Homo sapiens: one gene and its partners. The protein of the gene in region 1 interacts with the protein of each later gene in a biochemical or structural test. Each region holds a gene or a part of one and is shown in the gene's direction. Other genes may lie near its edges.

The links.
Region 2: the proteins of MCM6 (region 1) and CHEK1 form a complex in vitro, tested with the Homo sapiens proteins (2 studies listed by BioGRID, with this or other methods).
Region 3: the proteins of MCM6 (region 1) and MCMBP form a complex in vitro, tested with the Homo sapiens proteins (2 studies listed by BioGRID).

The regions. Positions count from the first base shown.
Region 1 is NC_000002.12:135,841,721-135,845,471, reverse strand, and holds part of MCM6 (DNA replication licensing factor MCM6), read left to right. Parts: intron 1-787; coding exon 788-927; intron 928-3,751. UniProt on the Homo sapiens protein: Acts as a component of the MCM2-7 complex (MCM complex) which is the replicative helicase essential for 'once per cell cycle' DNA replication initiation and elongation in eukaryotic cells.
Region 2 is NC_000011.10:125,635,051-125,638,801, forward strand, and holds part of CHEK1 (serine/threonine-protein kinase Chk1), read left to right. Parts: intron 1-378; coding exon 379-483; intron 484-2,398; coding exon 2,399-2,494; intron 2,495-3,751. UniProt on the Homo sapiens protein: Serine/threonine-protein kinase which is required for checkpoint-mediated cell cycle arrest and activation of DNA repair in response to the presence of DNA damage or unreplicated DNA.
Region 3 is NC_000010.11:119,871,043-119,874,793, reverse strand, and holds the start of MCMBP (mini-chromosome maintenance complex-binding protein), read left to right. Parts: upstream 1-1,950; 5' UTR 1,951-2,209; coding exon 2,210-2,267; intron 2,268-3,751. UniProt on the Homo sapiens protein: Associated component of the MCM complex that acts as a regulator of DNA replication.

The DNA.
Region 1 (3,751 bases):
AAAGTGGCCACTAGGACGCCTCAGCTTTTGTCCTCATTCGCGTCTCACACAAAATGATTTGGGAACTCAAGGTGTTCTTGATTCATGTTATATGTCATTATTCTCTTTCTCCCTCATACAAGTAAGTTTTAAACACAGCAGAAGTTGAGTTTTATGATAGTTATGTTATCCAGGTCCAAACATTTCCTATGTGTTGAGGGTTCTTACCAGGACTTTCTAAAAGTCTGGTAGACCTTGGACTTGTTAAAAGCAGCAGGCAGTTCACTTAGTAAGATGAACCTTGCTAAAATAAACAGGTAATTTTTTATTTTGAGTGAATACTCATGAATTTTACTTCTTAGTAAACTCCAGTTCCATAAAGCCTTCCCCTTTCTACAGAGGAAAAGTTGTTATATTTCAGAATTTTTGCTTGCTGTTGCTTCATTCCTAATTTATGCTTTTAGTTTCTGTTGGCAAGCATTCTCAGAGGTGGTGAAGCATAAGAAGATGAAGAAAAGACCTTCATACTTTGAAATCTTAATAGCTTTAAGAAACATATTTCTTATAATCTATTTTATTAGGTTTCTCTCCTTATGGATAAAATAAGGCATGCTTTAATACAAGTGATATGACTTGTTATTTCAGGCTTATGCTAGAACATTGCGGACCTTACGTCACCAGATGTACTTTCGGACGGCTTGACATTTATCTAATCTGTACATTATCTCGTTGTATATGTGGCAGAGATTTACCCAAGGACTGACAGTACGAGTTGCTAGGATAATTTGAATGTGTTTTTTTGTTGCAGAAGAGGACGAGTCAGCATTAAAGAGGAGCGAGCTTGTTAACTGGTACTTGAAGGAAATCGAATCAGAGATAGACTCTGAAGAAGAACTTATAAATAAAAAAAGAATCATAGAGAAAGTTATTCATCGACTCACACACTATGTAGGTGCAGAAGTGCGCGTGCTCTGGTATCAGGGAGGGAGGGAGTTCATGCCCTGTATCTGCAGGTTCACTAGTGAAATTTTTTTTGACCTTTGTTTGTTTTGAATCATTGGAGTGTAGTCAGAAGTATGAGTTGTAAAATAAGAGAGAATGAACAGCAGGTAAATGACTTATTTCCTCTGCTGAAACAAGCAGAATTTAGGTTAAATCTCAGAAGGTGGGATTGAAGTCTTACTAGTTAGGTGTTTTAAGCTTCTGTTTCCCATCCTCATATTTGCCCTTGGTCGTACTGCTGTCACCTACTTTCTATGTTTCATTTTCCTCACATTCTTAGTTCCCACCTTACCCAACCCAATAGTCAATCTTCCATCTTACTTGCTTGGCGAAACCCCAAACTTGGTTAAATATAACTTTTTTTTTTTTTTGTATCCTTATCTAAGCAGCTGAAAGTATCTGGAGAAAAGCATATAATTATGAGCCCAGTCTTATTTAAATCGATGACCAGAAATCTCAAGTGGACAGTTCTTACTGTCTCATCAACCTCATGACAGCACTGCCCAGTGCAATTCCTTTTCCCGGGTCAGTTCTTTGCCTCACTCTCTCACAGGCCCATCACATACCTTCTCTCCACTCCTGTCAGCTGGCCATTCTCAGTACTCAGCCTGTCCACAGCTTTGTCACAGTTGATCACTCCTACAAATAGTGTCTTCCTCACTTGGTTCTGAGTCACTGTATCCTCCTGGGGCTTCTTTCTCACTGGTTATTCCCTCTTAGTCTCTTTCCCTGAATGGTTTTGTTTTTTTTTTTTTTTTTTGAGACAGAGTTTCGCTCTTGTTGCCCATGCTGGAGTGCAGTGGCATAGCTCACTGCAGCTTCCACCTCCTGGGTTCAAGCGATTCTCCTGTCTCAGCCTCCCAAGTAGGATTACAGGCGCCGGCCACCACGCCCGGCTAATTTTTTAATTTTTTTTTTTTAGTAGAGATGGGGTTTTGCCATGTTGGCCAGGCTGATCTAGAACTCCTAACCTCAGGCGATACGCTCACTTTGGCCTCCCAAACTGCTGGGATTACAGGCGTGAGCCACCGTGCCTGGCCTGAATCTTTCTCTTCTTACTTTACTCTCAGATAGTTTACATTCATTACCTAAGTGATCTCATTTGGTTTTATGAATTTATCCATCTACTGATGACTTCCACATTTATGTCACCAGCTCTCACCACTCCTGTAAACTCCAGATGTATAGAGCTGGTTGCCTACTGATGAGCGTTTAACAGGCATCTCGTGCTTAATGTGTTCAAAAACAGAGTTGTTCTTCCCTGTTTGCAGTTGAGTTGTTCTTACTCAATTGCTATAGGCCAAATGCCTTGGAATTGTCTTTGACTCCTTGATTCCACTCTCCCCTCACAGCTCCTCTTCAGCAGCAAATCCTCTGACCCCCAGCTTCAGTGTGTGTATATTTTCTTTTCTCTTTTTACCGCCTTCACCAGCCCACCCAAGCCACCAGGCATGGACTGTTGCAGAAGCCTCATAAAATTGTCCTTTTTTTGTATTGGCTTCTTGCTCAGCAGCCAGATAAGTCTTTTTAAAATATAAATCAGATTATTTTACTACCCTCCCTTCCAGTGCTTCTCTCACATTAGAAGGAAATTCAGCCTCCTTGTCATGGCCTGCAGAACTATTATACAGTGTAACCCCTGTCCCCTCATTCACCTAATTTCACAGCAGTCTTCCCCATACCCATTTCACCCCAGTGACACTGGCCTTGATCCCTAGGCACACCAAATATGAGGGCCTTTGCACTCACCCTTTGTCCATTTCCCTAGATATCCTCCTCCTCTCCAATGTCTGCTCAAATGTTACCTCTTCAAAGAAACCTTTCTTGCTAGCCTGCCAAAATAGTAGCCTTCTGCTCTTGCTGTCACCCTGCCTTGTATTTCTTCGTAATGTTTAACATGGCCCAGCAGTATATTCTTTATTTAAGTGGTTAGTTTGTCTCTCTTATGGAATATAAGCTCTGTGAGGGTAGAGACTTTGCCCCGGAGCTACAGTGGTACCTGGCACATAGCAGGATCAAATATATGTTGAATGGTTAAATTTTCCTATTATGTGGCAGAGATTTAACTGTCGTGCCAATTCACAGGGCTCACTATATAAATATTACAGAGGTCATGTATTGGGGTTGTGTCTTCTCAAAAACCGTTTTCCTGTGAAGGTAGATCAGTCTGTGATTATTGAGGGGTAGGGAGGTGTAAGAACAGCTACTCAGATCAGGGTCCAGAGTTGCTTTTCTAGTGGTGGGACATGTCTGTGTGCTCCTTGGGATCAGTGTAAAGTAAAACGACCCAGGCAAGGAATCTGCTTCAGGACTTTGGAACACACTGTGAAGCTAACTGATCTAAACTTGAATTACCTATTTATTTATTTATTTATTTATTTATCTTTTGAGAGAGTCTTGCTCTGTTGCCCAGACTGGAGTGCAGTAGCATGATCTCAGCTCGCCGCAACTTCCGCCTTCTGGGTTTAAATGATTCTCTTATCTCAGCCTCCAGAGTAGCTGGGATTACAGGTGCCCGCCACCACTCCCAGCTAATTTTTGTATTTTTAGTAGAGATGGTGTTTCACCATGTTGGCCAGGCTGGTCTCAAACTCCTGACCTCAGGTGATCCACCCACCTCAGCCTCCCAAAGTGCTGGGATTACAGGCATGAGCTACTGCGCTCAGCCTGGATTACCTTTTAAAATTTGGCTTACCACCTGAACTAATTTGCTACAGAAAACTAGAGAGCTTATACTGTGCTGATGAGATATGATGCTTCCTATGAAGGT
Region 2 (3,751 bases), on another chromosome or scaffold:
GGGTTCAAGTGATCCTCTCACTTTAGCCTCCTGAGGAGCCAGGACTACAGATGCACACCATCACGCCCAGCTAATTTTATTTATTTTTTGTAGAGATGGGGTCTCACTATGTTGCCCAGGCTGGTCTTGAACTCCTGGGCTCAAGCAGTCCTTCTGCCTCAGCCTCCCAAAGTGCTGTGATTACAGGCCTGAGCTGCCATGCCTATCCTGATTCATCTATCTTTGAAGTGCCTCTAAAGTTTCCAAGTTGGGATTCTTAGTGTGAAAACCATATTGAATTAATTCAAAGGAAACTTTTCATGGATTTATATTATTATTTTTCCTTGAAATCTTTATAATAAGAACATTTAAAAAAACTGGGACTTGCTTTGTTTTTAGAATTGCCATGGGACCAACCCAGTGACAGCTGTCAGGAGTATTCTGACTGGAAAGAAAAAAAAACATACCTCAACCCTTGGAAAAAAATCGATTCTGCTCCTCTAGGTAACTGAATTATCTTGAGTGAAAGAGTACCGATTTCTTGGATATGAAGTCTTGTGCTATTTGAATTTTTTCTTACTTTTTTTTTTGTTTTAAACTTACAAATAATTCATGTTCGTTGTAGATAAAATAGTAACTATAAGTAAAAAATTAAGGAAAAAATAACTCTTTAGTCCCAGAACTCTGCAATAGATTTTTAAAAATATTTTGGGGAGTGTATATTCAGAGCAACTTGAATCTGCTCTTAGATGGCTTTTTACTTAAAGTTTTCATATGTGCTATACTTTGTTGCAAATACACTCGTTTGTTGCTTAATTATAGGGATGCACTCTAACAAATGTTTCATTAGGTGGTTTCATCATTGTGTGAACATCATAGAGTATATTTACATAAATCTAGATAGTATAGCTTACTATAAATCTAGGCTATTTGGTATACCCTATTGATCTCAGGCTGCAAACCTGTACAGCATGTTACTATACTGAGCACTGTAAGGAATTGTAACATAATGGTATTTGTGTATCTAAGTATAGAAAAAGTATAGTAAAAATACAGTATTATAATCTAATGGGACTGTCTGTTATACGTGTGGTCCATTCCTGACTGAAACATCATTAATGTGGCCCATAAGTATGTAAAATGAATATATGTATATTATTTATATGTGTTTTTATACAAAATGAGATCACACTAATAATATTTTGTAACTGTTTTTGGTTTTAGTGCGCAGCGAACATTCTTCCATGACTATAATTGTAGGTCTACATCGTTGGTTTAAAGGCTGTGATAATATTCTGCCATGTGGATATGCCTTACTTTACTCTTTTAATCACTTTGTTGGAGATTTTTCTAAATTTTCACAGATACAAAAGAGATATAAGTATCTGTGTAACTTAATCATGACACATACCCTTAAATTGTTCATTGAAATCCCCAGAAGCAAAATTGCAGGATCAAGGATGTAGTTTTTATTATTATGGCTTATTTTGTCAAATTGCTTCCCGAAAGTTCGAACCATTTCATCACAGTCTCATCAATTTACATTAAGGAAAAAAACTTTAAATAATAGTTTTTCATTTTTATTTTAAATTTAATACTAATGAAGTTGTATACCCTTTATGTATGTATTAGTTTTTTGTCTATTTTGCTCATTTTTGTCAAGGATATTGTTTTTCTTACCACTTTGAAGCTTTTTTTTTTCCTTGATAACACATTGACCTTTGCACTTGTTACAAATACTTTTCACAATTTATCATTTATTTTCATTTTGTTTTGCTATATTGACATTCAAATCTATTATCTTGTCCTTTGTGGTCCCTGACTATAATTTCTTTGGAAAGGTCTTCTACCTCTACTATTTAAAAGTTCCCTATGTTTTCATTTAGTGTTTTTATGGCTTCATTTTTCCATTTAAATCTTTGGTCCATTAGGAAATAATCTTCACATAGGAAGATACGTGAATTTTTTCTCAAGAAAATTAAGATACCTTAGGATGGTTAGTTAGATTACTGTCTCTTAAAAAGTTATTGGTAAGTAAATGTTCATTATAAAACTGTGTGAATAAGGAGGTCACGTGAGAACATGACATTGAAGTAATGAAATTCGGTATTGAAAATGGATAAGAGGGGTTTCTGTATCTTTTTGTTAATCTCGTCACATGAGGAGAAACATTTCCATCTGGCTCTTGTTCTCAGTTGCAAACAATTGAGAATCAGATCAGGGAAGACTACTCCAAGATACAGCAGCAGAGAAAAACTGCATGAAATTAAAGCAGTAATTTAGTAGCTTTAATTCTTTCTCTTCCCCAGGAATAATATTTAGACATAAGTAGGCTAACAGAAAATGTGTTTCTTACCTCAAGCCATAGGCTTCTCTAACATGATTCTTTCGTGAATGTTGTCGTAATGTTTGTTTTTAGCTCTGCTGCATAAAATCTTAGTTGAGAATCCATCAGCAAGAATTACCATTCCAGACATCAAAAAAGATAGATGGTACAACAAACCCCTCAAGAAAGGTAATATCCTTAAACTACAAGTTTGTTTGTTTTTCTGTGGAAGAAAAGGTAATTGCAAAGTTATTATCACAAGTCAACAACACATGATAGCTATGATCTCTGTCCTCATGGAGATTATAATGTCCAGTAGAAAAAAATACAGAAATAATTTTGTTTATTAATAATTATAAAGGGGAAAGTCAGGGTACTATAGCTAAGTGTTTGACCAAGTCTAAGGGACAGGGAAGACTTTTCTTCCTGAAGAAATTACATTAAATCTAAGATTTGAAGATTAAAGGGAAGCTAGGCAGGCAAAGTAAGTGGCAGATTTGATTCTGAACAGGGGAAGCAGTATTTGAAAAATCTTAGATTTTAGAAAGTCTGATGCTTTTGAGAAACTTGAAAGATCAGTATGGCACAAGCCGTGTCTGTTGTGTTCATCATTGTATCATCAGTGCTTTAGCACAGTATATGGTGCACCATAGGCACTCATTAAATATTTGTTGAGTGAGTGAACAGGGAAGTGGGAGAGGAAGACAGGTTTGAGATGAGGCCAGAGAGGTCGCTAGTGGCCAATTTGTGGAAGAAGACCTTGTAAGCCATGTTAAGGATTTTGGGCTTTAACTTAAGACCACTGGGGAGACCTCTGAGAGATTTTAAGCAAGACTATGACATAGTCATATCTTCGGTTTAAAAATATTTCTCTGACTTCCTTATTTTTTTTCCATTGTTTTTTATGAATAGGGAAAGATTCAGGGTGCTGTAGGTTTTTCTGCTAGTTGTCTAGAAGTGGGAGGCTGGTGGCTTGGAATAGGTTAGGGCAATGGTATTGGAGAAATGAGATGATTCCAAAGAAATTTAAGAACTAGTATTGATAGGACTGTTAGGCTGTGAATGGAAGGAGAGAGGACAATGACTAGAGATGATGAATGAAAAACATTCAGAGAGTTATTAATGTTTAACTCTGTCCTCATGGATAGAAAAGAGTTAATGTTTAAACATTCACTCTTCTTTAATACCTCTCTGCATGTTTCTTCCTCCTTGTCCTAACTTAAAGTCCAATTCTCCCCTGAGGACACTGCTTCCTCTGAAGCGGTAGGTGTTTTCTTTCCCATACCCTCATGTCCTTTGATCTGGACATGGTACAGGTGTCCTCCTTATTCTTCATTGTCACTTTCTCCCATCTTCCTTTATGTCTCTCCCCTCTAACTTTTGAACCCCAAATTAAAATTTCTGCCGTACTATCACAGTCTGCAAAATGACTCTTGATGTTATTTT
Region 3 (3,751 bases), on another chromosome or scaffold:
GTAAGTGTTCTGAGCATGTTTGCAGTAGCCTACTGATGTTTGATAGGTTCCGTGTATTAAACACATTTTCAACTAATGACATTTTATTTTTTTGAGACGGAGTCTCGCTCTGTCACCAGGCCGGAGTGCAGTGGCATGATCTTGGCTCACTGCAACCTCCGCCTCCCGGGTTCAAGTGATTCTCCTGCCTCAGCCTCCAGAGTAGCTGGGACTACAGGCGTGCGCCACCAGGCCCAGCTAATTTTTGTATTTTTAGTAGAGATGGGGATTCACCATGTTGGCCAGGATGGTCTCCATTTCTTGACCTCATGATCCGCCCGCCTTGGCCTCCCAGAGTATTGGGATTACAGGAGTGAGGCTCCACGCTGGGCCTCAACTAATGATATTTTCAATTTACAATGGGTTTATTGGGATGTAACTCCATCCTAAGTAGAGTAAGTAGAGGAGCATCTGTACAAAACAAGCTCCCTACCCTTCCACTATGTACCTAAGAGCAGGACATACATTTTCAAAGGTGTCCCACCTCCTCTTTCTACCAGGGACAAAAGTTAGTCACCAGAGACAACTTTAGACCCTTATCAGCCAGCGATGGCGCTAGAAGAACCTACATAACACACTTTACTCACTACCTGTAACTACCATTAGTTTCTCGTATCTCTGCCTTCCCACTCTGCTGTTTTTGGAAACTTCAAACTGCTTTCGCCATTTCTCCCCAGTTATTGTTCTTTATTGTAAATGCTACGTAATTCCCCCATTCTAAGCCACCTGTTTGAGTTACTCTTCCTTGAGTTTTGCCCATATAAGATGTACATGTTACTAAATTTTTCTTTTGCCAATCCGAGCTTTGTGATAAGGGCCGCAGTGGAGAACCTAGAAAGGTAGAAAGATTTTCCCCCCTTCCTACAGCCCCAAGGAGGGTTTGAGACACGGGTTCCGTTTTTTTCCTTCAGCTCCTCACTTTGTAGATTCCATTCAGGTCATTCCCCTTCCGTCACCATGCCCTTTTTTCATTGAGTAGATATATCTGATGGGCCTGGGGTTTTCTTAGGTACATTTCAGGCCCAGGGGAGACACAGTTTCATTCTTTTTTTCTTTTTTATCGGACAGCCTCCTGAACCAGAAGAGGTTCAGAGCGACTCCCACAGTTTCACTCTTGAACTTGGGTATTTTCCAAATTGCCTCAGCAAAAGGCTGCTGTAGTCGGTCTTCGTAGCTTCCTTCTCCAGGGTATCCTAGCGGCGCGCAGTGCAGGAGCCTCGCACCGCTCCCCGACGGCGGCTGCCAGCTTCCAGACAGACGCCGACCCGGTGTTCGCAACCAGGGCGCAGGCCGGGCCCGGAGCGTTTAGAGCGCCCGCCCCTCGGTAAGGAACCGTCCCTGAGCCACAGGGCCTGACGCGACTGCAGAAGGAGCGTGGGGTCCTCCGAGGTTCCCCTTCTCTAAATGTGCACCTTCCTCAGGGAGACCTTGTGCAGCTGAGGGAAAAGTCACCACTCAGGGTTTCGGGCCGGGGACCCAAATAAAAGTGCTGCCATCAGCAAAAAAAGAAAAAAAAGGCACGAAGAGGAGGTGGGCGGATTCCCAAGGCGGTTTCGCCCACTAATTTTGCCCAGAGATGACTCTGAGGTCTCTGAGCTTAATGCTTTTCAGCTGTTGTGCAGACTCGCTTTGCCCTCTTATAAGCCCACTATGGGAGTTCCCGCTACACGCCGGCCCAGGGGTACAAACGACAACGCGCCGCCCTTGGAGCGCGTCGCCGGGCCCCGCGCTGCGCAGCCTCCAGCGGCGCTGCGTGCCCTTCCTTTTGCCCGTCTCCAAGATGGCGGCGCCGCCGCCGCCCCTCCTCCTCGCCGCGCAGAGCCGCGCTGCGCCGCGCGCTCCCGCCGCCCCTCCCCACGCGAGCTCCACCCAGGTCGCAGGCAGCGCGGTCGGCGGCGGCTATTTCCCGCCATTGTGCGAAGTGAAGGCTAGGGGCCCGTACGCGCCCGCCTGACTGTCGCCAGCAGCTCCTCGGCGGCCCCACCGCAGCCGCCGCTCCCTGAGGCGCGGGAGGCCCGCGCCCCGCGGCTCGCTGTGCGTGGGAGGGCGCGAGCGAACGCGGGCGAGGAGCGGCCGAGCCGCTGAAGAGGAGCTGGGCGCCGGCCGCCCGGCCGCGCTCGGCCCGCGGATCGCCTCCGCCCGGTCTTCGCCGGCCCCGGCCCCTGGCGAGATGCCGTGTGGGGAGGATTGGCTCAGCCACCCGCTGGGAATCGTGCAGGGATTCTTCGGTGAGTGGCGGCGCCGGGGGGCGGGCCGGGCGGGCAGCCGAGTTTGCCGGGCCCCGGGGCAGGGCCCCGCCGCGCGGCCCCCACGCGGTACCATCTCGAGGGCTCGCGTGGCCCGAGACGGGGCCCCGGGGCCTGCACCGGCCCCAGCTGGGACAGCCTCTCCCCCGGTCGCAGCAGGCAGGGGCAGGAGCCGGGCCGCAGGTACCTCCCACCTGCCCGAGTCGCAGCTTGGGAGCCGCCAAGGTGAAGTCGTGGGGCGCGGGCTGTGATTCGCGGGCTGTGATTGACGGCCTCGCTCCCAGCCTGTGGCAGGGCCAGGGCCCCGGCCCCGGGCGCAGCAAACTCGGAGGTCCTCGAACCCTGGGGAGGGCCCGCAGAGCCGCGGGGAGGGAAAACCACTTTGCCTGTGGGAAGCCCACAGGATATTTCAAAACTTCCGGTGCGTCGGGGAGTGCTCGCTTGCACAGAAGTTGGTTCTAACTCCTGTGCTACCCTCATTCTCTCTTTCAGAGATAAGATTTAATGTTCATAGCTTAGTTTTCCTGTTGGGATGACTTTAGAACCCATCTAGTCTGGATCTGCTCCTGTGCCAGAGCCAGCAAGAAATATTGAGCTACTTGAGTTTGTACACAGGGCTGAGAATCCTGCAGGCGAGCTTAGTAAATTTTGGTTGCGATTGCTGTTGCTACTTTACTGCGAAGGGTATACGAAGAAAAGTTTATATTTGTTGTCGTTAACTGGGCATTTTGACAACCGTTCCATTCCCCAGTGTCTTTTTACACGTAATGAGTGGCGGAGTCAGATCCAGCTAGAAATCACTGTAGATGGCAACACCTGACTTGTCTGGAGTTAACTTAGAGTTGTAGAGCGGCCTTAGCTCATTGAAAAAAACATCTTGGGGTACTAGAGAGAAAAGGCAGTGGGAAGCTAAATCATCCTCAGCAGCCAAAATCGACGGCAAACAATGTATGGTATTTCTTATAGGAGGGCCTCTAGTGCTTACTCAGGAAGTCCTTATTAATTTACCTGTAATTCTAATTAGTTTAGTTACCTGGCTTCCCAGGCTGTAACTAATGGCATTATATTAGAAAAAAGCCTGGATAGACGTCCGAACTTAGCCAGTGAACACTGACAGCCTGATGAAGAAATTTAAAACTACCTTCATACTTGAAAAAAAAAAAAATTCACTATATAGCAGTCAAGGGTGCTTTGAGGAAGGGGCATATATTTCTCCACTAAATCCTAGTAATTTATGTTCATAAGAATTCTAGAAATGATAATCGATGGTCAACACAATGGCCCCAAAATGTCAAGTGAAGATTCAATTGTAGCATTGGTTTAAGAGGGTGCAGATGCATAGATACTTTTTAGGAAAAATCCCTCCAAAGTAAAAAGGTTTGGTGCTTAAAGGGTTAAATTTCAGTTACTAATATTAGAAAGTTTATTTATTAGAAATACCCCATACTCTGATTTTGCTGGATAAA